Linked DNA regions of Homo sapiens. The protein of the gene in region 5 purifies or fractionates together with the protein of the main gene of each other region. This does not show direct contact. Each region holds a gene or a part of one and is shown on either strand. Other genes may lie near its edges. The genes, in order: VPS45, CACNA2D1, LMAN2, ATP9A, SLC7A2, ABCG2 and QSOX2.

Region 1 (3,787 bases), on a different chromosome or scaffold from region 5:
CTGTACACAGATATTTATAGCAGCTTTATTTGTAATAGCCAAAACTGGAAATAACTCATATGTCCTTCAATGGTGTATAGTTAAACAAACTGTGGTACATTCATACCATGGAATACTACTCAGCAATAAAAAGAAATGAACTATTTTTAAATTAAGAAAACTTTTTTTTTTGCAGTTCCAGCTCAAAGGAGGAATGAACTATTAATACACACAACAGGTGAGGTGTGGTGGCTCATGCCTGTAATCCCAGTACTTCGGGAGGCTGAAGCGGGCGTATCACCCAAGGTCAGGAGTTTGAGACCAGTCTGGACAACCAACACGGTGAAACCCTGTCTCTACTAAAAAAAAATACAAAAATTAGCTGGGCGTGGTGGTGTGTACCTGTAATCCTAGCTACTCGGGAGGCTGAGGTGGGAGAATCGCTTGAACCCGGGAGGTGGAGGTTGCAGTGAGTTGAGATGGCGACACTGCACTCCAGCCTGGGTGACAAAGCAAGACTGCTTCTCGGACAAAAAAAAAAAACAAAAACAACACACACACACACACAGAACAGCCTGGATGACTCTCCAGAGAATTATGCTGAGTGAAAAAAGCCAGTCCCAAAAGATTATATGCTGTATGATTTCATTTATAGAACATTCTTCGAATGACAAAATATAAAATGGAGAAAATATTAGTGGTTACCAGGGTTAATGAGGGGGTTGGGGTGGGACAGAAGTCCATATAAGCTAATAAAAGGGATCCTTATAGAGATGAAAATGTTGTGTATCCTGACTGTATCAGTGTTAACATCTTGGTTGTGATATTGTACTATCATCATGTAAGATACTACACAGGGGGAAGCTGGGTAAAGGGTATCTGGGATCTCTGTATTATTATTCGTTGTTTTTTTTTTAACTGCACATGAATCTACAATTACTTCAAAATAGAAAGTTTAATTTTAAAAAGAAAACCTGTGACTATTAGCCAAAAACAAACAGACAAAAACAAACAAAAATTAAGTTGCCACAGATTAATAAAATTGCCTATTTTTACCTCTTGGGGCGTCGTGCACTGAAAACCCACTGGACAAGCTTTATGTAACTTTTCAATTCTACACAGAACTGAATGAAATAAAATATGAGAGAGCTCTTATATATATATAGTCTTTTCGCAAATGTTAATTTTTTGTATCATTATTCTATTTAAGTAGTATACGCTGAAGAAAGTATGTACGTCTTAGACTGTAGTCTAAACCCTAAAACTCTAATACCTTTAAGTAAGCTTTAAAACTTCTCAAATGCCCTACTTACTGTTAAATCTAGTCCTTGGTTTTGGAAATGTTACCAAATAGACTACACTAACACTATTAACATAAAGATAAATAATGACATCTAGAGGAGAATAGATGTAACTTCTACAGCCGAATGTATTGGATCAAAAAAATCCATGTAAATTGTATAGTAAACACAAACCTAGTTTATTTCCAGATCTCCCCTACCTAACCCCCACTCCAAGAAAGTTGTGCACATAAGAGATCACTACCTGATGATTTATACTTTCAGTGCATTAAATATAGTAACAAAGAGAAGTGAAAGGCTTTTATCTGGTATGTAAAGTAAATTTCTGCTTTTCCAGCAAACTCAAGTATTACCTTCCCACTTCAAAAAATAAATCAGCTTCCATGCCTCAATTTTTAAGTGTAAAACAGGGATAAGTATATACTTTTTTTTTTTGGCAGGGGTGAGATGTGAAATTTGTCTACTTAAAACTTTTGACTTACAAAGCATCTTGAAAGGCAAAGTAAAATGTAAAATTTTTAATTTAAGCAATCAAAGATGAATGGAAATCACATTTAGCCCTCTGAAACAGAATATTGGTCAAAAGTATTTTTTTTTTTTTTGAGATGGAGTTTCGCTTTGTTGCCCAGGCTGGAGTGCAATGGCGCAATCTCGGCTCACTGCAATCTCCGCCTCTCCGGTTCAAGCGATTCTCCTGCCTCAGCCTCCCAAGTAGCTGGGATTACAGGCATGTGCCACCATGCCCAGCTAATCTTGTATTTTTAGTAGAGATGGGGTTTCACCATGTTGGTCAGGCTGGTCTCAAACTCCTCAGATGATCCGCCCGCCTTGGCCTCCCAAAGTGCTGGGATTACAGGTGTGAGCCACCGCGCCCGGCAGGTCAAAAGATTTTTAATACTTTGGAAGGACATTAAATAAACTAGACTTTTATAGTGACAGATTCAATGAAGTTATTGATGATATGAAGGGCTCAATGAAACACACTAACTGGGATGTTGTTACATGTTTGAAAAAGTGAACTAACATACTTACAAATGAAATATATAGTGTATTTGGGTCTTCGGAGCTCCTGAATAATATAATCCACATTCTCCTAGAAAATGAAGAACAAGCAAACAAAATATGAGGAGAGTTGCTTAAGGAAAAAAGTAATAAGCATTCACCCATTGATTTGTTTATTTACTGCGTCTACTGCATATTGAAGTCTAGGTTAAGTGTGCTTATGTTGGTGGGTAAGGGCTGGAGACAAAAGAGATAAATTAAATACAATGATCGGGAATCATATATTATTTAATAATATGTGTATAATATTAAATATTAACCAGCTGCATTTTGGCCAATTAAGATAAAGAATATAAAGGACACAGATGTTGAAACACAACATAAAATTGATTATAATTCTGCAAACTCACATCAAGCTGCTTGTCTATAAATTGTATTCATTTGCTCAAAATTCTTTTTTTTTTTTTTTGAGATTAAGTCTCACTCTGTTGCCCAGGCTGGAGTGCAATGGCACAATCTTGGCTCACTGTAACCTCCGTCTCCTGGGTTCAAGCAATTCTCCTGTCTCAGCCTCCCAAGTAGCTGAGATTACAGGTTTGTGCCACCATACCCAGCTAATTTTTTGTAATTGTAGCAGAGACGGGGTTTCACCATGTTGGCCAGGCTGGTCTCGAACTCCTGACCTCAACTGATCCACCTGGCTTGGCCTCCCAAAGTGTTAGGATTACAGGCATGAGCCACTGCGCCTGGCCTGATCAAAATTCCTATATAGAGCATTAAATGTGTCTATTCCTTTAAAAATTAACATGCAAGAGAAAATAAAGTTAATTATATTCACTTTGGCTTTTAACTTATTGGGATGTAAGACTCTGCACAACTACAATGTTTGTGAAGTATTTGCAAGTAGCAGGCTAAGATCTTTTCTACAATTACATTGTTTTAAAATAAAGTATGAAAGTTTAAAACAAAAAAGTTGATTTTTATATGGTCAAAATATAAGATTCCAATTACATAAGATTATAATGCAGGTTTTATTGGTTTTTGATACTATAACACCTGGTTAAATTTCAATATAAATTGTTCCCTAAACATATTAATTTGTTTTAAAAATCACATTTCTTTACAGAATTAAAAAAAAGTAAGCAATATATACTGCTTATTAATGGGGAAAGGGTTTTAAAAATTGTAATTTAGATTTAAAAATGCAATTTAGATTTCAAATTAACTTTATAATATAATCTTAAGGCAAAAAATTTAAATAATAAATCTTTTAAACCTCAATTACTTCCTCGTAATATGCTAGGCAAAAATAACAAAGTGAATTAAAAGATTCTTAAAAGTTCAGACAATGTGGAAAAAGACAAAAGAGAATATATAAAAGAGGAAAAAGAAAAAGGAAAGATTCTTTTTTAAAAATTATTTTTAATTTTTATTTTATTATTATTTTTTGAGACGGAGTCTTGCTCTGTCGCCAGGCTGGACTACAGTGGCGTGATCTCAGCTTA
Region 2 (3,787 bases), on a different chromosome or scaffold from region 5:
TCTGTGCTTTGTAAGCTGTGACTTGCTGCTCTCCTCTCAGGAATCCTGTGGCATTAATTATTACTTTCCCCTCAAAATCCCCATCTTGCCTTTCTCCTCTACCCTCATTACAACAAAATTAAATTCTCCATCTCTTTTTAAAAGATATTTTATGGATACTGACTAACATTAACCATGACCTAAAAAAACTGTATTTTTCCCAGTTCCTTCAAATTCAAATAAAGATAACATTCAGTTCTTCAAGTCAGAGAAGACTAGAAGTAAAAACAAAACAAAACAAGACTTTTTTTTTGTAAATCTGTTTAGTTACTATATAGAAAAATAAATAATATTTGGCTTAGAATTATTTAAATTACTAATATATTTAATAACTTTATATTAGAAATTTTTAATATGGGTTATTTTAGGAAAAAAAGTTAAAATATAATCAAATTTCTCTATGTTCTGCCTAAAGAGAAAGGAATTATCTTGATCATGTAATTATTATAGTTGAAGAAATAACAGCTTATCAAAGTTAGAATTTTAAAAATTACAAATTTTAAAAGTCTACAGAGAAACTAAAGATTGCTGACATTTTCAGCTTAAAACAATTACTCACATCTCTGACTCCAACACAATTTTCAGTTTTTTCTGTAATGATTATAACAGTATATACAATTTCTTAATGATTATAACAGTATATACAATTTCTTAATGAAATAGGACTACTCCTGAAATAAATAAATTACCTGGAACAGTTTCCACAGTCTAATACACCACTGAATGATTTACTGTCGTTATCGAAGAAATACTGGGTTTGTTCAGTAATGCAGCTCTGCTTGGACAGGGAGGCCGTGAAGTCATCATCCTCCATCTCAACTTGGGTGGCGGGGGACGGTGTAAAAACAAAGAACACCATTAGGAGGGGTCTCTGTAGTCACTCCCCTCGAGTCTTCACTTCTCACAGAGCAAAATAAACGTATAAGACCAGGACCCCTCGACTGGCTTGTTTACTGCTGTGTAATATCGTGGCAGCCCGTAATAGATGCCTGATAAATATCAAGAGAATAAATGAATTCAAATACAAGATGGCTATGAGATCAGGCCCGTGTGACCTAGGTAATTTCTAAAACATTAGGAAAGGTTGGACAAAAAGTTTCTAGCTCTAAAATTATGAGATGGGTGACCTGTTTTCTCTTTCACACAAATATTCTCTGAATTTGTTGAACTTCAAGCACATCCCAAAAGAAAATTTTTATTGTTATGGCAATGACAAGGTCTGAGCATTTACATACCTGCCTCAAGGAGTCGTGGAAAGGTCAAACTCAAGAGAAACTGCTGTAGAATAGACCTGAATTTTTCAAATAAAAAAAAAATAAACATCTAGGGAAAAAATGTGTTTTTACATGTACCCATACACATAAATACTGTTTCCCTTTATCTTTTTGGGAAAGAAAGTCTTGGAGTGTTTTTATTTAAGTATTTTCAAAATTATATAACACATTGTAACCTTTTTGTAATGTGTAAAAGAAGTCATGAAATCAGAAGTGTTCAGATCTTGTTCAGGATCAAGTGGGACACAATGTGTGAAGAAACCTAACAGGCAATGTTATCAAGCAGAAGAGTTCACTCTAAGAGGGAGAATGTCTGTTTCAGCGCGTAGGTTTTCACATTCATTACGTCTCCTTATTTTAGTTTTTAAAACCATTTGTTTTTTGGGTTTCCCCCGCCCCCAACAAAGAAACAATGCTGTTTATACCATGGGTTTGAATTTGTTAACTATTTACTTTGTAATATAGAATATATTTGTAAATATGTAATGTAACTTTCATGAAACAAAATATACATATTAGAGAGATACAGCACATTTCAGTTTTACAGTAACTGACAACTGAGCCAAATTTCTAGAACTGAATTTAGTTTAAAAAAAAGTGGGGGTGGGAGGGGATATAGGATAAAGCCAAGTATTTCAGGGTCATGATGAAATTTTAAAAGCCTACTGAAATTAATATATAAAATCACATCAGAAAATACCATTTTTCAGAATAAAACAGAATTTTCTAAATCTTTTAAAAACTCTCAAAATTTTAAAATCTTTTTTGCTGCTTTAATGATATAGTCACTTAATTTTAGCTGGGCAAACCTCAACATCAAATGAATATTGTACATTAATCTACATGGAATAGGGCTAACAATACAGTGTGATGATACAAAAAAAAAGATTAGAAGGGAGAGAGGGAAGAGGGAGATCATGGATTCCAGACGTAACAGGAGGTTTAGTTACAACTAAACAATGAGAAATGTGATCTTCCAGACCTTCCACAGTGCCACAATTGACCATTTAAATGTCTTATTTTCATAGGTTGTAGGGTCTACAGGTGAGGGTTGAGGGAGGTTTGGAAGGTAGCATCAGTGAAAAGAAATAATTAGATCCATGTCGGCAACCTGATGCCCCTAAAACAATACTAGTCCTTGTATCAATAGTAAAGAGGTAGAAGGTTGCCATCATGCCATGAATTTGATGCATGTAGACATCCAACTGGGATATTAAAGACAAATTGTAACTTCTTACAGATCAATACACCTAAAAGAAATTAGTGTAATGTTTTTATAAATATTTAATACAAATGAAAAGAGTTTCAATAGATATGTAGAGGAAGGAAGACTCTAAAGAGGCTGAAGTTTACATCCGCATAACATTGTTTTCATATGAGAAACTGAATAATGGTAACTTTATAGTGTTCACTTAGGAAAAACTATAAATATTACCAATAGGTGATGTAAAGAATGAAAACAACTTAACTCCCTTAATAAAAATTTGAATATCCCCTAAATCCATATTTTCATCAGATGCTTTTTTATTTTACAACTTCTTTCTTTCATTACCAATAAAACTAAAATTTTGACTTACCAGGCAGCAGCAGTGGCCCACCAGCCAATTTGTAATATGTCTGCTACTGATGGCTATAAAATAAAATAATAAGGTCATTTCAGTAGTCTACTTGATACTGAGGACACTTGAGTACCCCTTGAGAATTGATTAGACCGTGGATATTACTGACCACATATGCTGAGCGATGTCCTGCTCCTTGTTTTGGTGCAGCACCGGGCTCACATACTGACTGATAATCATAAGATTTGTTAAAAGCATAAACTGATATATTAACCAGGTGTCTCATCAAGCTGGGATCAATCTCTCCAAAAAATCTTCCAATCTGGTGAAGAAAAAAATCATAAAGCAACGTGCACTTAAAATGTAAGCCAAAAATGAACACGGGAATCACCACTACAGTGAAAAGAAATAATACAAAGAAACTGAACTACAACTGAGGAGCTTAAAAACAAAAGCAAATGAGAAACGTGTATATGACACTGTGAACAAACTAAAATGAGAGTAAGTGTTCTCATTACTCAGTGGGGCTGTGTGATATTTTATTTGTGGAAAGAATGGACACACATTACTAAGCATTAAATCACAATCAAATGCTTCCCAGATGAATAAAACAGGGCCGGGGAATGGAGAGGTATAAGTGGAAGGGTACAAAGAAGCAGTTATGTAGAATGCATAAGCCTAGAGATTCAACATACAACAGAGGACTGTAGTTAATAATACTGTGTTGTCTACCAGAAATTTGATGAGAGTAGATTTTAAGTCTTCTTACCATACCGCAAAAAAGGTTAACAACCTGAGATGATGGATATGTTAATTGGCTTGACGCAGTAATCACTTAACTATGCAAATCAAAGCTTTTTTTTGTACACCTTAAACATATACAATAAAAAAAAGATCAAATGCCCCCCTGGGGAA
Region 3 (4,566 bases), on a different chromosome or scaffold from region 5:
ATGCAATGGCGTGATCTCTGCTCACTGCAACCTCTGCCTCCTGGGTTCAAGCAATTCTCCTGCCTCAGCCTCCCGAGTAGCTGGGACTACAGGTGTCCGCCACCACGCCGTTAATTTCTTTTGTATTTTAGTAGAGACGGGGTTTCACCGTGTTGCCCAGGCTGGTCTGAAACTCCTGAGCTCAGGTAATCTGCTCGCCTCTGCCTCCCAAAGTGCTAGGATTACAGGCCTCAGCCACTGAGCTCAGCCGGAAGTCTGGATTTCTGATGTGAATGTACATATTCCGACTTTGTGTGTGTGTGTGTGTGTGTGTGTGTGTGTGTGTGTGTGTGTGACAGAGTCTCGCTCTGTCGCCCAGGCTGGAGTGCAGTGACGCGATTTCGGCTCACTGCAAGCTCTGCCTCCTGGGTTCAAGCCATTCTCCTGGCTCAGCCTCCCGAGTAGCTGGGACTACAGACACCTGCCACCACGCCCGGCTAATTTTTTGTATTTTTTAGTAGAGACGGGGTTTCACCGTGCTAGCCAGGATGGTCTCGATCTCCCGATCTCGTGATCCGCCGGCCTCAGCCTCCCAAAGTGCTGGGATTACAGGCGTGAGCCACCACGCCCAGCCTCTATATTCTGACTTTAAAATACTGGTAGTTAAGCCATTTATTAGAATATTGGCAGGTAAAACAGAGCTCTATTCAGCTGCAGGCCACCAGTTTTCGACCTCTGATTCACAGCTTTCCTGGGCCTTCCATGGACGTTACTTGCTGTACCAGGCACTGCGCTCTTTTGCATAGGGATGAGTTCCAGTCATCACTGGGGTCCCAGGCCAGGATCTGTGTCTGTTCCTCTTGCTTCAACCCGACTAGGCCTGAGGAGTTGAGGGTAGTGGAGGCCCTCAAATAATTGGGAATTCTGAGTCTCCAAAGGCGCGAAGCTGGGGCGCCTGACGGCAGGCACGGCTTAAAGGCTTGCCCAGGGCCACCCGGGGAGGACAAGGGTTGGAATGCAGGACTCCGCCTTCAATTCAGAGCTCCTTTCTCCAGGACTAGAAAAGGTTATTCCAGAGACGGGACTTGCGGCCAGAAGCCCAAGACGTCCTAGTCTTCGCGAATCCGCCCCATTAGAGCGACCGACAAAAACTACAAATTCCAGCATGCCCCGAGTCGCGGACGGCCCTCGCGCTCCCGCCGGCTCCAACCATCCCTCTGCTCCTCATTGGCTCGCAAGCCTAACGTGCTGTTCCGTGACTGGTTACAGCTCTTGTCGCTCGAAAGAACCCATTGCTGGGGCTGGCCGGCGTGTGCCTTGGAGCCTCTAAGGAGATGAAACTGCACTCAACCAGGATGAGAGGCTGCCCGGCCAATGCAGCTGCCGCCCCGTCTGCTGCGGAGGCTTTGCTTTTTGACTCCCTGGCGACAGTAAAGTTGAAGAGCTTCCGGCCGGAGGCCAATAGATGGGACCCCCGGAAGGCGGAAGTTCTAGGGCGGAAGTGGCCGAGAGGAGAGGAGAATGGCGGCGGAAGGCTGGATTTGGCGTTGGGGCTGGGGCCGGCGGTGCCTGGGAAGGCCTGGGCTTCTCGGCCCCGGCCCTGGCCCCACTACACCTCTCTTTCTTCTTTTGTTGTTGGGGTCTGTGACTGCGGATATAACTGACGGCAACAGTGAACATCTCAAGCGGGAGCATTCGCTCATTAAGCCCTACCAAGGTGAAGCCCTTGGGGCGGGAATGAGTGAAGAGTGAGGGCGAGGCTGAACAGGGCTAGGGGAAGGCGTGCCCTTTCTCCTGAGCAGAGCATCTCTGTGGGTTTCCTGCCTCTGGTGAGGCCAGTCCTGGCGTGGCCTCTTAGCACCTGTCTCTTCCCACAGGGGTCGGTTCCAGCTCTATGCCCCTCTGGGACTTCCAGGGCAGCACTATGCTCACGAGCCAGTACGTACGTCTGACCCCTGACGAGCGCAGCAAAGAGGGCTCTATCTGGAACCACCAGGTGAGTGGTTCTCAAGAGGATAGGCGTACTGTGCGGTTGGCTGCTAGTCCCTGCCTCCCGAGCAGCTGAGACCCCAGCTTCGTTTATAGGTTTGCACCTCCGTCCCTGGCCTTTTCCTCATCTCGGTCACACCCACCAATAATAAGAGGCGATGGGTATTGGGTACTTACTATGTGTCAGGAGCTGCGCTTGACACTTTACATCCTCCTCACTTTAAAAGCCATGCGAGATGAGTAATGTTATCTCCATTTTACCCACTGAGAAGCTAAGACTCAGGTTTGAAAGGGCCTTACCCAAAGTTACATAGCCAGAAAGTAGTGGAACTGTCAGGCTGTCTGCCTTGAACCCCCTCAGTAATGGGAAGAACCGAGCGAACTGGATCTTTATTGGGTGTTTTGCTGTGTATTAGGCACTGACCTTGCCATGCCTTATTGCATTTAATTTTCAAACAAGCTGTTTGAAATAGATGGCTTTCATGACTATACAAAGATAACCCAGCTAGCAAATGTCATAAACAGTATTTAAACTCTGATTTGTCTGATCTCTAAGCCCAGCAGTTCACTCGATGTACTTGACTCTTTTCACCTGGACAGTGGAGGAACCCCTTAGAACCCTTTTTGCAATGCTTGGTTGAGGGTCTTGTCATCAGTAGTGTGGAGGGACTGGACCTGTGGGCAGTTCTAGTGTCTGTGACCTTTGCCTCAGAGTATGTAGTATGTAGTATGTGAGCAGTGGCCAATGACAGCTGCTACACAGAATCCACACTGAGGCAGTCAAGGTGAGGAAAAAGGGGAAAGAAGAATAATTTGGGGCTGGGTTACAGCTTGGAGCGGGACCTGCTCCTGCCCCAGCTTGCCTAATCTCAGCCCTTCCCATGGCTTAAGCTGTTGGCCAGTGTTCTAGTTTTCTCCATCACCCTGCTCTCTGATCCCTGCTGGTTGACTTTCTTGTTTAGTTCTGGGAACCCACACTGTCCTTGTGTTGCCTGGTCTGCCCGTCCCCTCTGCTCCTCCTCTCCTTCCTGCCCCGAGCCTCCACACTGCTGTTAGTGGCATCTGCGGATACTTTCTTCAGCTTTCAGTCTGATCCTCAGAGCGTGGAGTCCCCTGTGAAGGGGTAAGCATGCATTATGTCTGCACAATCTGGCCCCTTGTGCATCTCCAGTCATTCTCTGTGTTAATTTTGTTCCAGCCCCCCCTGGCTGCCTTCTTGCCTCAGGACCTTTGCACCTGTTGTTCCCTCTGTCTGGGACACTGCCTCCTGGCTCCTCATGCCTGCTTGGTTCCTTCTCATCTGTTAAGTCTCAATTCAAGTGCCACCCACGCAGACATTTCTTCATTAACCACCCTATCTCCCCCGAGTCACATTCTGTCACATTCTGTCTTAGGGCTTTCAGATATTTTAAAGAAATGATAATTCAGCCTTATATTTTTCATGGAAATGAGTTCAGTATAGCATTATTATTATTTTTTGAAAGCAAGGTGCAAACAGTGCTGGAACTGTAGAAATCAGGAGTAGCCACAAGTAATAGACGCATCTAAGACAGTGGCTTACATTTTGGTTGTAGATAGCTGATGGTTGGCATCATCAGTGGCTCGAGGATGTCACAGGACTGAGAGGCTTCTGCACTTGCCTTCATCGAATTTTCAGTCTGGAGTACAATTGTTTTGCCTTCCTTCCTCCACCTTTCTATTTGGCTCTGCTGATATTCCTGAAACATTTGGAGTGCTTCCTGTAAACTCTGGAAAGAAATGGCTTGGAAATCAGAATTTTCTGTTCAGTGTTTCCCAAGAACTGCCTCTTCCTTTAATGAGCTGGAGAGATGCTTCCTAAACTTTTCCCTTTTTTATCTCCTTCATTCACTCCATCCGGGAGAGGCATGCACTCAGGCGAACATTCCCTGAACACCTGCTGTCTTCTGAGCAGCCATAAAATAGCTCCTGCTGTGGTGCAGGGGGGGTGGTCTAGATGAAGGAGTGGCTCAGAGTTGACTAGAACTCTTAAGTGCCTGGTGGCTGCAGCATAGGACCTGGGGAGGCTGCTCAGGCCCTGTCCTTTTGGGGGTCTTGTGCGGAGGCTGCGGCAGTGGTCTTTAAGCTTTCTTTGCTGTTGTAGCAACCTTTTGAAAAGTTGGCATCAAAAATTGTTTGTCATTAGGTTTAAGTATTTGCAAAGGATGACAGCATATTTTAAATATTGACATTTTAAACTAAAACTGTTCAGTATTTTAAACATTCAGTGGAATCTAAATATTGCAATTTGATATCCACTTTTTTTTTTTTTTTTTTTGAGACGGAGTCTTGTTCTGTCACCCAGGCTGGAGGGCAGTGGCGCAGTCTCGGCTCACTGCAACTTCCGCCTTCCTGGTTCAAGTGATTCTCCTGCCTCAGCCCCCTGAGTAGCTGGAATTACAGGTGTGCACCACCACGCCCAGCTAGTTTTTGTGTTTTTAGTAGAGGTTTTTTTTTTTTTTTTTTTTTTTTTTGAGACAGAGTCATGCTCTATCACCCAGGCTGGAATGCAGTGGTGCGATCTCAGCTCACTGCAACCTCCACCTCACGAGTTCAAGCGATTCTTCTGCCTCAGCCTCC
Region 4 (3,787 bases), on a different chromosome or scaffold from region 5:
GCAGGGCTGGCTGGAGACGATACTGAGCATTTCCGAATGGAGATTATTGTGTGGATAACTTTTTACCAAATGTCACTGTCTTTTCCTCCCAAACCGACACCAAGAGCTTTCTATTTTTCTGACACCTCTTTGTAAGAGCAAGAAAGACATAAAGAGTACATACACATTAGGACTCTTTAAAAACACACACACACACACACACACACACACACACACACACAAGCCTTCTACAACCTTCAGCTACACAGAAACTTTTATCATGTGACAACAAAATTCAAGTCATAAGGAAGCTCGCACAGTGACCCATATAAATCTCCCAGCTGAGCCACCAGCTTTAACATATTCATATTCACCTAAACATGAAGAACGAGGGGTTCAGACAGGCCCAGATGGGTCTCTTTCAGGACCCTCCCTCCCGTTGATGCAGCGTTAGGACTCCGTTTAGGCGCAGAGCCACTTCCCATTAAAACTGCATGTGTTAGCAATTACTGCAAAATCCACAGGTGGCGGTTAATATAAATGGAACTTGAGCTCTGTCCATCAGGGAAGCGCCAAGACCAGGGCCCCCTCCAGCGAACGCACGGCCTATGATGTGAGCTTTGAGTAGCTGGGGGGAGAGAACCGTCTTCGCAGGTACTTGAGGACATAGAGGGGGAGGCAGCTGACCAGAGTGATGACGGAGACTTTCCACAAGAATGACAAGGTGGCGATGAAGTACACATCTGCAAGGAAAGGGGAAGACGGCAGTGAGCAGGCAGGAATATTCCGGAAGGTGCATGGGGTCCAGAAACAGGCGTCACAACTATCAAAGGGAAAGTCATCTCCCGTCACAAACCCACAGCCTCCTGGCATTGGCCCTCTTTCTCCATGGACTGTAAGGGAAGGTACCATGGCTAAGAGCACACAGCGCCGCAGCTTGATTTTCCTCGCTCTCTCTTCTGTAGCTTCCTGACAGTGAAATGCTACTTTTAACACCCAGGAGAAGAAAACTATGGGGGCCACCAGATGCAGTGGCTCATGCCTTAATCCCAGCACTCTGGGAGGCCAAGGCGGGCAGAAGAATTGAACCCAGGAGTTTGAGACCAGCTTGGGCAACACAGCAAAACCCTGTCTCTACAAAAAATACAAAAACTAGCCAGGCATGGTGGTACATGCCTATAGTCCCAGCTGTTCAGGAGGCTGAGGTGGGAGGATCATCTGAGCCCGGGGAGCTTGAGACTGCAGTGAGCCAACATTGCACCACCGCACTCCACCCTGGGCAACAGAATAAGACACTGTCTCAAAAAAAAGAGAAAAAAAGAAGGAAAGAAAATTACAGGGGAAGAAAACTCAGAGATGCTTTTGATTTGGTGTTGTCTAACAGTTGGAGAGTCTTTCTAAGTCCCGGCCACTGGCGAGCAGAAAATGACATTCAAATGCACCCTCTGCTTCCAGTGATGGTCGCAGAAAGCCACAGGATGAGTCTGGGTCATGGTGCAAAGTGTTCAGACCCCCTTGTCAGAGAAAGGCTTAAGCTGACCCTCAGGGACTCTGATGGAAGGTGGGGGGGGCGGGCGTACTGCCTTTCCTGCTGCAGGATTATAAACCCGGTTATGAGGTTTTCTTAAGAGAGGAGTGACAGTTTGTGGCTTTCAATATAGCAGAAGCCAGAATAAGCCCCTTCTCCACTTTCTGAGCACAGGATGCTGAAATGCAGCTGCCACTGAGGCAGCACCTACTAAGTGCCAGGCCCAAGGCTCAACTCACCCTGTGGTTTTCCTACACCTCTGACCCGGTCCTGTGGTGTGTCCCTATCACAAACAAGCTGAGCTTCCTGAGCAGGGGCCACATCTCTGTGACCACCTCAGGCCCAAGCCTTTGAGCACATACTAGGTCTCACAAAACGCTTTCTAGAGACTAGTGACAAGGGTGAAACTGCTTTAAAACTCCACTGTTCACAGGGATGCTCCTTTAGTTCCTGGAGCGCACAGTAAATGCTCACAAATCCTTTCTAGAAACTGGGGCTGCAACTGTGAAACCTTTACTTTTCAGGGGATGTTTCTTTTACCTTTACTAAAACCTTCCTAAGGAGCTTTGGAAGCTGGCAAAAGAGCCGCGATCAAAGATGCTTCCAGGGTAAGGTCGAGTTTCTCTGCCTTTTTGTTGTTATTGCCCCTTAAGGAACATTTTTAGACTTTTCTTCTTCTCCTAATTGACCACCTCCATGACATGTTAATGTCACAGGTATACTGTGTATCTGTTTATAATATTATATATACATCTCCTTTATACGTAAAAGGTTAGGGTTTGTTCACACCCCACCAAAGACCACTGTTTGTTCCCCAGGCGGTGGGGTCCACACCACCCCCACTGAGAAGGCCTGAGGTAAAGGAGCAAGGGATGGGCCATTGCTAGAGAGCCTGGGCCCTGCAGGTTTCCCACGGAGGATGGGGCGTGAGGGGGTTGTCATTAACTGAAAGTTTCCCCCAGAGAGAGTCTATCCTGCAATCCTGAACACACATGAGCTTCTTAGCAGAGAAGCAGCCTCCGGGCCCTGCTCCCCCAGCTGATAAAGGAGAAACAGTATCACTCTTGAGGGTTTTTTGTTTGAATAACACAGACAGAAAATTAAATGCTCCTACTGAGGAGGAAAGAGGTGTAAAGAGGACTGTCTGCTAAACCAGCTAGACTTTCAGGATGACCCCTGGCCCTGAGGTTCCAAAGCCATAGCGGCTTGAGTTTGCCCCGTGCGGGGGAAACCAAGATTAGAGTTCAGAATCTATCCACAGCACAACACAGAAAATGCTGGATCATCTGAACCGTGCCCGTGTTGCAAGTTCTAGTTGAACTAGAAACAGGTTTCTAGACAGGAATTAAAGCCCGTGTCAGCACCCGATGGGGTCCGTAGCATAGCATGGGGTCATCTTGGTGGCCCTGCAGGGACTTGTGGCTCAATCAATTGGGAAGAAATTAACTGATATGGCAAAGCAAGTGAGGTCAGCATGGAAGAGTGATGAAACCAGGCTTGTCCATCTAGAGACAGTGGCTGACGCTGGACAAGCCCAAGAGTACCTGGAATCACTACTGAGGTCAGAGAAATCTGCCACCACCCCACATTAGGATGGTGCTGACACTCCCCCATCTCTACATTCCCATAACATTTTTTATTATTTATTTATTTATTTATTTATTTAGAAATGGAGTCTTACTCTGTCGCCCAGGCTAGAGTGCAGTGGCGTGATCTCAGCTCACTGCAACCTTCGCCTCCCGGGTTCAGGCGATTCTTCTGCCTCAGCCACCCAAGTAGCTGGGACTACAGGTGTGTGCCACCACGCCCTGCTGATTTTTGTATTTTTAGTAGAGATGGGGTTTCACCATGTTGACCAGACCGGTCTCAAACTCCTGACCTCGTGATCCACCCGCCTCTGCCTCCCAAAATGCTGGGATTACAGGTGTGAGCCATTGTGCCCGGCCTCCATAACATTTTTTATTTGGGGTGTGCCTGGGCGTCTAGCACCTCACCCCATTTTTCTTTCTTGGTAACTTTGATCACATCTGATATTCCTGTGCTCACACTCACTTAATGTGTGTTTATCGTGTGTTCCCAACGAGAAGGGCAGCTCCCTGGCGAGCCCGTCCACCTCATCTGCCACCATAATCCTGGCACACGGCAGGTGCTCCCACGTCTACGGAACTGGCGAGTACCTTCAGCACTTGGTTTGCTGTGAGGAGCAGCAGATTGTATTCTGAGATCCCTGGAGTCCCTCAGGAGCTCTATCAGGACACAGCAGCAAGGCAGGGCTGCACG
Region 5 (3,787 bases):
ATGTTAAGTTGTAATTGTACTGATCCCCAATTTAAAAATTCCACATAGGCCAGACACAGTGGCTCACGCCTGTAATCGCAGCACTTTGTGGGGCCGAAGCGGGTGGATCACAAGGTCAGCAGATCAAGACCATCCTGGCCAACATAGTAAAACCCCATCTCTACTAAAATACAAAAAAAATTAGCCAGGCATGGTGGTGCCCGCCTATGGTCCCAGCTACCTGGGAGGCTGAGGCAGGGGAATCGCTTGAACCTGGGAGGTGGAGGTTGCAGTGAGCCAAGATTGCACCATTGCACTCCAGCCTGGCAACAGAGTGAGAGTCTGCCTCAAAAAAAAAAAAAAAAATTCCACAAATAAGTAGTGCATTCTAGTAATTATTATTTGTTTTCACAAAAACAGAATGGTCTGATTTTTCAACATGCTTGGACTCTAGTCTTCACTCTACCCCTAGCTGTCTAACCTCACATGAGCCGAGATTGCGCCACTGCACTCCAGACAGGCAACAAAGCAAGAGTCTGTCTCAAAAAAAAAAATTCCACAGAAGTAGTGCATTCTAGTAATTATTATTTGTTTTCACAAAAACAGAATGGTCTGACTTTTCAATATGCTTGGACTCCAGTCTTCACTGTATCCCTAGCTGTCTAACCTCAGATGAGTTACACCTCTCAAGATCTCAGTCTCTTAACCTATAAAAAGAGCGTTCTAAAATGTCATTCTGAGGCACTTACTTCTCTTCCATATTCGTCTAGCACCGTGCCAGAAACTTGATAACTGTCCACGGCGAGGGAGGCTAGAAAGGAACGTGTCCAAAGCCTCTGAAATTTCGCACAGGACAGTTTTAAATGTACTGTGAAGTTTACGCTTTAAAATACAAAACCAACTACCACAACAGTGTCTCACCATTTTTATAGTGATATAACCAAATGAATTTCCAGGACACCTAGACTTATTCATGTTATCAATCCTCTTTAAAGAAAATAGTGATTTTTGTTATAAAAATGAAATTCTGCTAAGTTTCAAGAGAGTTTAAAGCAGGCACCAGCCCAGCACTTGTTTTCACAGCTCTAGTACTACAAATTTTATCAACACCCACTATTGTCTCTGAATGGCATGTAAAAGTGCTCTGTGCTATGTTCTTGATGAATTGTACAGACACAAGTCCTACTCCACCTACACAACCACTATGCCACAAATGCAACGCATTTAAAAGAGGGCTTTCTTTTGCAATAAAACATTACAAATCCTAACTACAAGTAAAGCAAGTGTTGCAAGAGATAATTTTTCAGTAGCTAAATCAGCATTAAAATTCCTCACTTCGTCTCAATATTATACCTTAAGCATGTTATTAAACAAACATTAACTGTAAAAGGAAACGCTATGGGTTAGTTATTTTACATTGTAAAAACTGATAAGGCCCTGCAAGGATGCTTCCACTGGTCTTTAGTATGATTCAGTTCTACTCAACTGTAAGTTTATTAAATCTCAGAGATTTCTACAAGAATATCCGTATCAGACTGACATTGAACTGGCAAGATTAGATTTCAAATGTCACACTAAAGATGCTCCAATTTTAGATAAGAAAAGAGGGCACTGACTATGCTTACCCATTTTTTTTCTGTTTATGTCAGACATTTACAAATACTCAGTTTAAATTATCTCAGCCAAAACTCAAGTAAATTTGTTTCTGGCCCATAGGAAGACATTGAAATCTACGAGTCTAAGAATCTGGAGGAAAGAAAGATGGCGAGGCTGGAGATCACTGAAGTCAAGTATACCCTTGAGGCCAGGGAACAGCATCCACCATGGCACTAGTTGAGAAGGGTCATTGCTATGTTACTGTCATACCTCTGTGACTCAGAGTGACCCCAACTGCCACATCTACCTCTGGGCCAGTTCTCAGCCCCAACTTGGAGGCCATAAGCGGTCTTCTTCAGCAAGAGGAAAGGATGCATGACCAAGAAGGCCCCATCCTGCTCACAGGATTCTCTCCTAAGATATTTCTTCGAGAAGTTGAAATGGTTTCTGCATTCCAAGGTTCTTATCTTGGGTTTCTGAAACCCTAGTTGCCCACTGGTTGGAATGTGGGAAGTCTTGACCTTCCAGAAATCTTACACAAAATTGCCAGAGGGAAGAGGCACAGTTTACATACAGATGTGCATTCTTTTTTACAGGGAAGTGAACTGGATGGGATCGGGTGGGCGGCGGGGGGGTGGGGGGTGGTACATGCTTCCATCACTTAATTTCCTTAACTCCCCTAAAACATCAAGGGAGCCACTGCTGCACAGAACAGCTGCTATGATCTTAGAGTTCTTCTTTCCCACAGAGGCACGAATGTAAACAGAATGGCCAGCAGATCGGAGTAAAGGAGGAGGAGCTCCTTCTCTGTGTATCAGGGAACTATGGGAACCATTCATGCAAATGCCTTTCATTAGAAAAAACTGTAAAAGTCACGCAATCTTTTCTTTTTCTGGACCTGAATTTCTTTAGTTCTCCTGTTTGAGTCAGTTACTCAATCTTTTAAGAGTTGCAGTAAAATTTCAGAGACTGCTCAAACAGTATGGCGCTTAAGTTGTAAATATTATACAATTCTACCTAAAAAGAGTATGACCTTTAACTTCTCCAAATGTATTAATAAAAGTTGGTAATAAAGATGAAAGCCAAAGAGAAGACGATGTGGTAGAAGAGTAACTGAGAACATATATGGGTTCTCTAAGGAATGCATATAGAAATACAATTGATAAACCGGATAGAATTAATTGTTACTTTGGTCACTCAAAATGACCTCAATTTTATCCCATAATAAGAACCACTGGCAATTCTATCAAGTATGGGCTCCGCCAATTAGAATTACATAAACATTTAAAAATATCACTGCAATACAAGACTTTAAAGTATGAAATAATTTAAAGTGCAACTAATTGAAAGGTAAGGGTTTCAATCCCCTAGACACTGAACTCCATAAGAAACTGACCAGTGGTCCAGGAGAGCCACAAGATCTCATTTACCACCGGCCTCAATCTCACTAAGCACTTGGCACATTCTCAGAGGGCACACAGCTGGTGCCCAATACTTACTCCTCACTGAGGCTCACTAAACACTCAGCAGTGCCATTTTGTTTCAGGATGATCAATAAACTGAATTCTTAGTAGTTTGTTATTCTTCTACCAATGCCTTCACAAAGGTCCAGATCAATGCAAAACGCCAGGCCTCTGAGTTGAAATCGAAATCTCACTTTGCTTGGGGAATCACAGCCAATGTGACTTCACTTTCTTGCCATAGGCTGCTGTGGAACAAAGGTAAATTCCTCATGTGGCCAAAACACACCTGAGTGTTGCTGAGGACTTAAGGATGGAGGGTCAAAACTCACCCCAGGCTCCTTCTAGGTTTCCCCAGAACTCAAGAGCAAAGACGTCTCCCAAACAATTGCTTAAATCACAACTGAATTAAAGAAACCACTTAAAACTTGCTGGTGAATTCAAACATAAATATAAAATTGTATTGTTTCATATGATCATTAAACAAAAAGTCCATACAGAGTAGCCTAAAGCTTTGAGCTCAGGCTTTTCCCACAGGAATTCATACCCACATTGATACAAATTATCATGAAGAGTTTCCATTTGAATTTTTGTCAGGACAAGTACCTTGGCAAGTTGCAAATATTCTGCGAACTATGAGCGCCGCGTATGAATAATAAGTACTCTTTGATACAAATTATCATGAAGAGTTGCCATTTGAATTTTTGTCAGGACAAGTACCTTGGCAAGCTGCAAATATTCTGCGAACTATG
Region 6 (4,481 bases), on a different chromosome or scaffold from region 5:
TGCAACCTCTGCCTCCTGTGTTCAAGCGCTTCTTGTTCCTTAGCCTCGCGAGTAGCTGGGATTACAGCCTCGCCACCACACCCAGCTAACTTTTGTATTTTTAGTAGAGGCAGGGTTTCACCATGTTGGCCAGGCTGGTCTCGAACTCCTGGCCTCAAGTGATCTGCCTGCGTCAGCCTCCCAAAGTGCTGGGATTACAGGCATGAGCCACCGTGCTGGCCTTAATTTTGTCTTAAAATGAAGTATGACTAACATGTATTTCTATATGGGCCTTTAAGGGTCTTGAAACTGACAGAAATTAATTCAAAAGAATAATTTTACCCAAATGTTTGGGCGCATCATGAATATATACCTTAAAATTCTTTTAAAAAGCATGCGGTATGGTATATTTAAAATTCTTTTTAAAAAATTATGTATAGTCAATTTTCTTATCTAGGCTTCCTAGCTAAAACTTTCCTGCATTGGGTGAACCATTAATAGTTATTCCTAGTGTTGATTTAAACAACTTAAATGATACTATGATTTTTGTTTGTAAATGCAAACCAGAAAATATCTGCATGCAGGTACTAATTTCCTAGGGTAGATGCAGCAGGTAGATGTTGGGATGGCTACACTCACAAAGCCTGATGGCCCGTTTCCTGAACATGCGCAATCACTTTCTAGCCTTTCCACACCATCGGAATATTGCACAGAAGTATGTCAGTCACAGGAGTGTAAAGAATAACATTTAAACTATGGTAATATTTTCATTCAGTAAGTTTCTCCCCTTTCCTTCCTTGGGTTAGATTCAGTGCCTGATTTTTTTAGGCCCTGGGGCGCAAGCATCCACTTTCTCAGAATCCCATTCACCAGAAACCACCCATTTAACTTGCTCTGGGTGCGAGCAGCGCTTGTGACTGGGCAACCTGTGCGTCAGCGTCCCCGGTGCTTCGGCGCTCCGGCCAGTGACGGCGACCAAACCCAGCTAGGTCAGACGAGGTACTGATCAGCCCAATGAGCGCCTGGTGATTCTCGTAGTTAATCACTCTGGTTCATTCCGTTCGATCCCGGAGGCGGGAGTGTTTGGCTTGTCCCTGCGTGTCACGGCAGGGTGACCCTAGCCCCGAGGGAGGGCGGTGGTACCAGTCCTGCTGGCGGCTCAGCGCGGCAGGACACGTGTGCGCTTTCAGCCGGGTCGCAGGGCGCTTATCGCGGCCCGGCAGTCGGGGCCACGCCTCACCCCCGCCCGCGAACCCCGACCTGGGGAAACCCGGGGCGCTGGGGAGGGGCCACTGCGTTCAGCTCTGGCGGTCCACAGCCCGAAGCGCGGCTTAGGAAGTTCGTGTCAGCGCTGCCTGAGCTCGTCCCCTGGATGTCCGGGTCTCCCCAGGCGGCCACCCGCCGGCTCCCATCGTGACCTCCAGCCGCAGCGCCTCCCACGCCGGCCGCCGCGCGAGGGGAGCGCTCGGGCGCGCCGGGTGTGGTTGGGGGAAGGGGTTGTGCCGCGCGCGGGCTGCGTGCTGTGCCCACTCAAAAGGTTCCGGGCGCGCAGGAGGGAAGAGGCAGTGCCCGCCACTCCCACTGAGATTGAGAGACGCGGCAAGGAGGCAGCCTGTGGAGGAACTGGGTAGGATTTAGGAACGCACCGTGCACATGCTTGGTGGTCTTGTTAAGTGGAAACTGCTGCTTTAGAGTTTGTTTGGAAGGTCCGGGTGACTCATCCCAACATTTACATCCTTAATTGTTAAAGCGCTGCCTCCGAGCGCACGCATCCTGAGATCCTGAGCCTTTGGTTAAGACCGAGCTCTATTAAGCTGAGTGAGTAAATTGTAAAACCAGTTTCGCTGAGAGTGTGTGTCTGGAAAGGTTGGTGGGCGTTGTGTATATATTTGTTAGAAAATCGGTAACCGTTCAAACGAGACGACTGAGTTTTTTAGCCTTTCGCAGTTTCATTTGAAAGTGGGTATGCAGTTTAAAACTGACAGTTCAAAGTGGTTTTTCAGAAAATGATGCCCTGGTGCAAACTGATTCTGGGTCCCATAGTGTGTTAAGTGTGGGTTGGTAAAAACTCTTGGCCTTTCTCCAAATGTATGAAATTAAAGTTGATATTGGAAGGATAAAAACCCACTGAGCACAGAAGTTACTATAGGTGGAGGAAACATTTGTTGATGTTAATATTTTAAAGGGGTTGACCAATATAGGAATTGGTCAATGACAATTGGGAATAGGTAAATGACAAATTATTGGTCAATCCCTTTAAAGCTTTGGATGGTTTGCTAAAGAATTATTGAACTCCCTTTTGTAATTTTCTGTGGATAGTTGAGTGCTCTTACTCCCTTCTCAGTCCTAGAGATATCCCCTAAAGCTTGGTTTTTAGGAGGATCTTACAGCTCTCTTATCATTTGAATGTCAGCTAGTCATAAATAAATACACCAGAGTAGTAAGGAAGAGATGTTTTTTATTGATATTCTTTACAAAACAGTGCTTTCAGAGTACAGCTTTGACTGGATTGTATAGATCTTGATGAGATCTTGATGAGAAAGGTTTCAACGACAAAGATGGCATGTTAAGTCTAACATTACCCTTCCATTATAAACATTGAAAGATGTTGGTTATTTTATTATTTATTTTATAATAACTTTTAATTGTGAAATAATTTGAGAGTTACTGAAAATTTGCAAAAAATAGTACAGAGAGTTCCCATAATATCATGCATAACAAGGGCCAAAACTAATAACATGGGCATGCTACTATAATACAATGAACTAAACTACAGACTTTATTTGGATTTCACTTGTCTTTCCACTGTCCTTTTTCTGCCCAGGATCCAATCGATGATCTCACTTTGCATTTAACTGCTAAATATCCTTAATTTTCTCTGATCTGTGACAGTTCCTCAGCCTTTCATTGTTTTTTCATGGACCTTGACACTAGTGAAGAAGACCCGGTCAGTTAATTTGTAGAATGCCCCTCAATTTGTGTTTGCTTGATGTTTAGTGTCATGATTAGATGAATGTTCTGCATTTTGGGGAAAAATGTCACAGAAGTAAAGTTTCCATCTCAGTATGTCATATTGGGTACATGATGTCAATACTTTTTTTTGAGACTGAGTCTTGCTTTATTGCCCAGACTGGAGTGCAGTGGCACGATCTCAGCTCATTGCAACCTTTGCCTCCCAGGTTCTAGCGATTCTCCTGCCTCAGCCTCCTGAGTAGCTGGGATTATAGGCGCCTGCCACCATGCCCAGATAATTTTTTGTATTTTTAGTAGAGACAGGTTTCATGTTGGCCAGGCTGGTCTCGAACTCCTGACCTCTAGTGATCCTCCTGCCTTGGCCTCCCAAAGTGCTGGGATTACAGGCGTGAGCCACTGTGCCCTAGCCGATACTTCTTATTACCTATGATGTTAATCTGTTTGCCAGATTCCCTTTGTATTTGAGATCTTGGGAGAGAAACCTGCACTGCCATTTTTCCTTAAACTTTTATTCATTAATTTAAGCATCCATTTGTGGAACATGTTGTTTAGCGGGTTTTTTTTCCTAATGGTTAAACAAAACCCCTATTTTCTTCCTTCTACATTTTTTAATTAAAATTCCCTTCTGTAGGGAAGAGTTGACCCTTCTCTCCTGTTCATTGATTCAGTTATTTGTATCAGTATGGGCTCATGGATATTTGTTTTGTTATATGGGTTATAATCCAATATTATCAGTATTTAATTTGCTGCTCAAATTGTTCTGGCTTTCACCACTGGGACCTTTTTCAGGTTGGCGCCTGTGCCACTTTGACATACACTTGCTTTTTCTTTTTCCTTCTTTTTTTTTTTTTTTTTTTTTTGAGACGGAGTCTTTGTCGCCCAGGCTGGAGTGCAGTGGCACGATCTCGGCTCACTGCACCCTCCGCCTCCCAGGCTCAAGCGATTCTTGTGCCTCAGCCTACCAAGTAGCTGGGATTACAGGTACGTAGCACCACACTTGGCTACTTTTTGTATTTTTTAGTAGAGACGGGGTTTTCCATGTTGGCCAGGCTGGTCTCAAACTCCTGGCCTCAAGTGATCTGCCCGCCTCGGCCTCCCAAAGTGCTGGGATTACAGGTGTGAGCTATCATGCCCGGACTCTTTTTCTTTTTTAATGCATTTCTTGATTTCTGGCATCAGAGAATGCTCAGGCTTATTTTGTATTTTCCATGTCCCAACCTTGGAATGATCCATTTCTCCAAGGCACTGTGATTATTTTGCTTTAGAATGGTATTAGAAGCTAATATCTGGACACTGGATGTTCTATTAGAGTTACTTCTTTTTTTTTTTGAGATGGAGTCTTGCTCCAGGCCAGAGTGCAATGGTGGGATCTCAGCTGACTGCAACCTCCTCCGCTTCCTGGGTTCAAGCAATTCTCCTGCCTCAGCCTCCTGAGTAGCAGGGATTACAGGCATGTGCCACCACGCCCAGCTAATTTTTAATGTTTTTAGTAAAGACGAGGTTTTGCCATGTTGGCCAGGCTGGTCTCG
Region 7 (3,787 bases), on a different chromosome or scaffold from region 5:
AGCAGCCTGGGAAAGGCTGCAGCTCTGGCAGCTCTCAGCCACCCAAGTCCTGATCCCGTCAGCACAGTGGGTGGCACGAGGCCGCAAAGCTCAGGGACAAGCCCCACGGCAGCCGTGCCGTCCTTGCTGTCCCAGGACCAGGGCCTCCCTCCGCCCGTGCTGAGCCCCCCATGCCCAGGGGCTTCTCACCTGCCAGGCGGCCGTTCACCATATTATGCTTCTTCCACAGCCAGAGGATGGCTTGGTCTGGGGTTTTCACCGAGTCCATGGATTCTTTAGCCATTTCCTCAAAGTGCTCACCACATTCCTTACACCCAAAGAAGGTGTGAACGTACCTCCTCATTGTCTGCAGCACAGCCTGGGGGTCGTCTTCAAAGCCTGCAGGGGAAGAAACACTGCTGACAACGGCAGGTGCGTGGGCATCACCTGACCCCACGCTTGTCCAGAGAGCCTGGGGGGAAACCGCTCCTGACATGTCGGGAAGCCACCTCATGTCTCCCCAGGGGCCTCAGGCTGTGGGCACAGACCAGAAGCCAGCACCTGCCAAGATGTCCAACACGCCCACGGGTGCTGCAGGCTCTGGAGACACAATGACTGTGGACAGCCCAGAGGGCGGACATGCTCCCCAGATGCCCTGGTGCCAGGAGGATGAGCCACGGACTCGGCCGCCAGGGCCCAAAGGAGCCCTTCCAGGGGCGCCTCCCACCTCCCACCAGTCTTCCAGCCGTCTGTGCCAGAACGCCCGGAGTGCCGCTCTTCCCCGGGATTTGCCAGCTGGGTGCAGTCTCTCTTGCCTTACAAGCAACTCTCAGGGGCTGGTACCAGGGCAATGACTCTGCTCATTCTAAACCTGCAGCTGTCGCGTTTGAAAGCCCTGCAGGACACCAGCCCAAGTGGGGACACGGCCTTAGGAAGTGACTCTTAAGCTGCCGCCAGCCACGGGCGTGAGGATGTGGAGCAGGTGGGCAGGCACAGGGACGGGTGCACCCACAGCCAGAGTTTGTGCCACCGAACGTATTAACAGACATGGACAGGCCGGGGCGCTTCCGCAGATACTGTGAATGAACAACACACATCTCAAGAAAGCAACACCTGCCCACAGGTGGCAGGAAGCAGCCAGCACCGCAACCAAGGGGAACCCCTGAGAAAACCAAGGGGGCAGCATGGGGCGGGGCTCGGCAGTCCCCACTCAGACGACTGACACAGGAGCTTGAACGCACAGATAGGAGACCCATGAGATTAAAACAGATTACATGTCAGCATTAAAAAAAGACATGCTTTCGCGAATGAATCCGTCTTCATCGACAGCAGGCCCTGGGGGAGCTTCCCGCGTGAGTGCAGGCCTGACGCTTGTCGTGGCTCCCTGCAAAACACAGCTGCGTGCAGGCCCTGACCTCAGCGTCCTGGTCGGTCCCAAATCCCGACACTTCTTGTTTATTTCACCCAGAAAGGTGAGAGCAGAGCAGAGCAGACCACCTCCTCCTCAGCCTTGAGCGTGTCCACGGGCAGCTGGGCGGTGTCTCAGATGGGACCGCAGGCGCTGGCCCTGTGACCCGGCCCGTCTGCCCTGCTCTCCTGCCGGGAGGGCTCCACAGACATCTGCCTTGCATCTCCACGTAATCCCCCTCCTCTTCCCCACATCACCGCAGGCGCGGGGCCACCCTAATCTTTAAAGTGGACAAGAACCATAAACCTCTACCTGTGGGAGGATTAGAGGCCTTCACAGGCATTTTACTAGATAGGGCTTAAACATACAGTAAAGAGAAGAAAAACCTTCCAAGACTTAATCCCGTGGTCGCCTCTGACCCAATTCTCTTGGCAGGAGGCTACTCCTGGAGGCTGCTTCCAATATGCTGATGGGCGGAAGGAGCGCTGAGGGTCTTGCTAGCAGTGTGCTTTGCCATCACACTGCTCTTACAATTCCACTACACTAGGGCTGGTCCTAGAAGAGTTTAAAATCAAATACCCCGGTCACTCAACTTCTCCCCTTGGCCAACACTGTACCCACACTGCCTTCAAGGAGCCGTTCCTCATGCCTGCGTGTGCCCGTGTGATCAGAGCAGACGGAAAGGGGGATGGCATGTCAGCTCATCTCCTCACCAGAACTTTCCATGTGTAAACGTGAGGTTTCCTAACTCAGGCTCACGCTTCAGAAGCAGTTTTGTTGTGTTTTTTTTTTTTTTTTTTTTTTGAGACAGTCTTGCTGTTGCCCAGGCTGGAGTGCAGTGGCATGATCTTGGCTCACTGCAACCTCCAGTGCTGGGATTACAGGTGTGAGCCTTGTGCACAGCTCAGAATCAGATTTACATGGTCTGGCTGGGCATTCGGTCGGAATCAGGTTTGCATGGTCTAGCTGGGCATTAGATCAGGCAGTGTGGATGCTGTGATTTCAATTTCTGTTTGGACAGCTCCCAAGGTTTCTCCCCAAAAACATACTACTCTTTTTTTCTGTATGATTATGAAAAGGATTTGAGGTTAAAACCCACCCTCTCCCCCAACCAGACCCCCGAGAAGCAGTAATCCAATATCACCTTGAGGAGGGCCAAAACAGATTTTCAGAAGGCCACTATAGTGCCCCCATCCCGGGACACTCTCCCATTAACAGGTGGAATCTATTTCTCTCACCACGAATTTAGGCTGGGTCAACAGGATGCGGCAGAAGTAATAATATGTGACTCCACACTGAGGTGGACTCTCAGGGGGTCCTGCCTGAACCTGGTGCTACTTGGTGGGGAAGCCACGTTCAGGAGTACGAGGCATTCCAAGGTCCCCTGGACTGACCAGCTGCCACCAGACGAAGGCAGACACACACGAGTGAGCCCAAGCAGCAACTCACAGAAGAACCGCCCAGCCGAGCCCAGCCCAAACTGCTGATCCACAGCATGATAAGCAAACAGTGGTGGCTGCTTTAAGCCCCAGCATTTTAGGTTAGTTTGTTATGTGGCAAAAAATAACCGTAAAGGAATTTGAGAATCTTACTGGAAAGAGCGTTGAACTGTGTGAGTCAAGACTCCACTTCGGCTTTGAAGTAAACATTAATGAACCTGAATTACTGCTTCAACTGGGAAGCACACACACAACAAAATTCAGGGGGGATAAAAAATCCAATACATACTTTAGTGTTCTGTGAAGGACAGAAAATTTGTTTTTATCTATTTCCTAGTAATTGAAAATTATTAAATCCAACTTCGAAGTTTTATAGGTTTTAACCCCTTGTGGTGGGCAGCCTCTGCGACGGTCCCCACAGATCACACCACCTATACTCACGCCTCCTGTAATGTCCTCCCCTTGCGAGTGGCCTGGGCCTGGGGACTGACTAGTAAGCAGAATCTGACAGAGGTGATGGAATATCATCCTCGGATAGGCACCCTCTCACTGGCTTGCTGATGAGGCTTGCTGCCATGATGTGAGCCGCCCGATGGAGAGGCCCTGAGCGTGGCCTGCAGTCAACAGCCAGCATGGAGCTCAGGGCCTTAGGCAAGCCACGTGCAAGGAGGCAGGCCCTGCTCTCTGCCCCATGAGGGTGCTGGGAAGCCACTCTCCCCAGGTGGGCCTTGGGTGACCCCCCAGGCCCAGCTGACACTCCGACTGCAGCCTGACCAATCCTGAAGAAGAGGACCCAGATGAGGCCATGCCCGGCCCTCAGAAACCATGAGCTCATAACCGTGCGTGGTTCCCGTGGTTCTGGCTGCTAAATTTTGGGGTGATTTGTTATACAACAGCTGATAATGAGAACACCTCTCCAAACAGATTTCACTTATTCTGTCTTTTTAAAGCAAAAAACAGG

Evidence for each region.
Region 1: the proteins of SLC7A2 (region 5) and VPS45 purify together in Homo sapiens (affinity purification with mass spectrometry; one large-scale study listed by BioGRID and IntAct). This does not show direct contact.
Region 2: the proteins of SLC7A2 (region 5) and CACNA2D1 purify together in Homo sapiens (affinity purification with mass spectrometry; one large-scale study listed by BioGRID and IntAct). This does not show direct contact.
Region 3: the proteins of SLC7A2 (region 5) and LMAN2 purify together in Homo sapiens (affinity purification with mass spectrometry; one large-scale study listed by BioGRID and IntAct). This does not show direct contact.
Region 4: the proteins of SLC7A2 (region 5) and ATP9A purify together in Homo sapiens (affinity purification with mass spectrometry; one large-scale study listed by BioGRID and IntAct). This does not show direct contact.
Region 6: the proteins of SLC7A2 (region 5) and ABCG2 purify together in Homo sapiens (affinity purification with mass spectrometry; one large-scale study listed by BioGRID and IntAct). This does not show direct contact.
Region 7: the proteins of SLC7A2 (region 5) and QSOX2 purify together in Homo sapiens (affinity purification with mass spectrometry; one large-scale study listed by BioGRID and IntAct). This does not show direct contact.

Annotation. Positions count from the first base shown.
Region 1 is NC_000001.11:150,070,752-150,074,538, reverse strand, and holds part of VPS45 (vacuolar protein sorting-associated protein 45), read right to left. Parts: intron 2,374-3,787; coding exon 2,313-2,373; intron 1-2,312. UniProt on the Homo sapiens protein: May play a role in vesicle-mediated protein trafficking from the Golgi stack through the trans-Golgi network.
Region 2 is NC_000007.14:81,961,166-81,964,952, forward strand, and holds part of CACNA2D1 (voltage-dependent calcium channel subunit alpha-2/delta-1 isoform 1 preproprotein), read right to left. Parts: intron 3,195-3,787; coding exon 3,042-3,194; intron 2,944-3,041; coding exon 2,891-2,943; intron 1,331-2,890; coding exon 1,275-1,330; intron 859-1,274; coding exon 729-858; intron 1-728. UniProt on the Homo sapiens protein: The alpha-2/delta subunit of voltage-dependent calcium channels regulates calcium current density and activation/inactivation kinetics of the calcium channel. Plays an important role in excitation-contraction coupling.
Region 3 is NC_000005.10:177,348,582-177,353,147, reverse strand, and holds the start of LMAN2 (vesicular integral-membrane protein VIP36 precursor), read left to right. Parts: upstream 1-1,479; 5' UTR 1,480-1,500; coding exon 1,501-1,696; intron 1,697-1,856; coding exon 1,857-1,975; intron 1,976-4,566. UniProt on the Homo sapiens protein: Plays a role as an intracellular lectin in the early secretory pathway. Interacts with N-acetyl-D-galactosamine and high-mannose type glycans and may also bind to O-linked glycans.
Region 4 is NC_000020.11:51,600,626-51,604,412, forward strand, and holds part of ATP9A (probable phospholipid-transporting ATPase IIA), read right to left. Parts: intron 723-3,787; coding exon 586-722; 3' UTR 1-585. UniProt on the Homo sapiens protein: Plays a role in regulating membrane trafficking of cargo proteins, namely endosome to plasma membrane recycling, probably acting through RAB5 and RAB11 activation. Also involved in endosome to trans-Golgi network retrograde transport.
Region 5 is NC_000008.11:17,503,505-17,507,291, reverse strand, and holds part of SLC7A2 (cationic amino acid transporter 2), read right to left. Parts: intron 1-3,787. UniProt on the Homo sapiens protein: Functions as a permease involved in the transport of the cationic amino acids (L-arginine, L-lysine, L-ornithine and L-homoarginine); the affinity for its substrates differs between isoforms created by alternative splicing.
Region 6 is NC_000004.12:88,155,702-88,160,182, reverse strand, and holds the start of ABCG2 (broad substrate specificity ATP-binding cassette transporter ABCG2), read left to right. Parts: upstream 1-1,610; 5' UTR 1,611-1,797; intron 1,798-4,481. Other genes in the region: uncharacterized protein LOC124900867, read left to right, coding at 627-713, 1,101-1,610.
Region 7 is NC_000009.12:136,211,075-136,214,861, forward strand, and holds part of QSOX2 (sulfhydryl oxidase 2 precursor), read right to left. Parts: intron 379-3,787; coding exon 190-378; intron 1-189. UniProt on the Homo sapiens protein: Catalyzes the oxidation of sulfhydryl groups in peptide and protein thiols to disulfides with the reduction of oxygen to hydrogen peroxide. May contribute to disulfide bond formation in a variety of secreted proteins.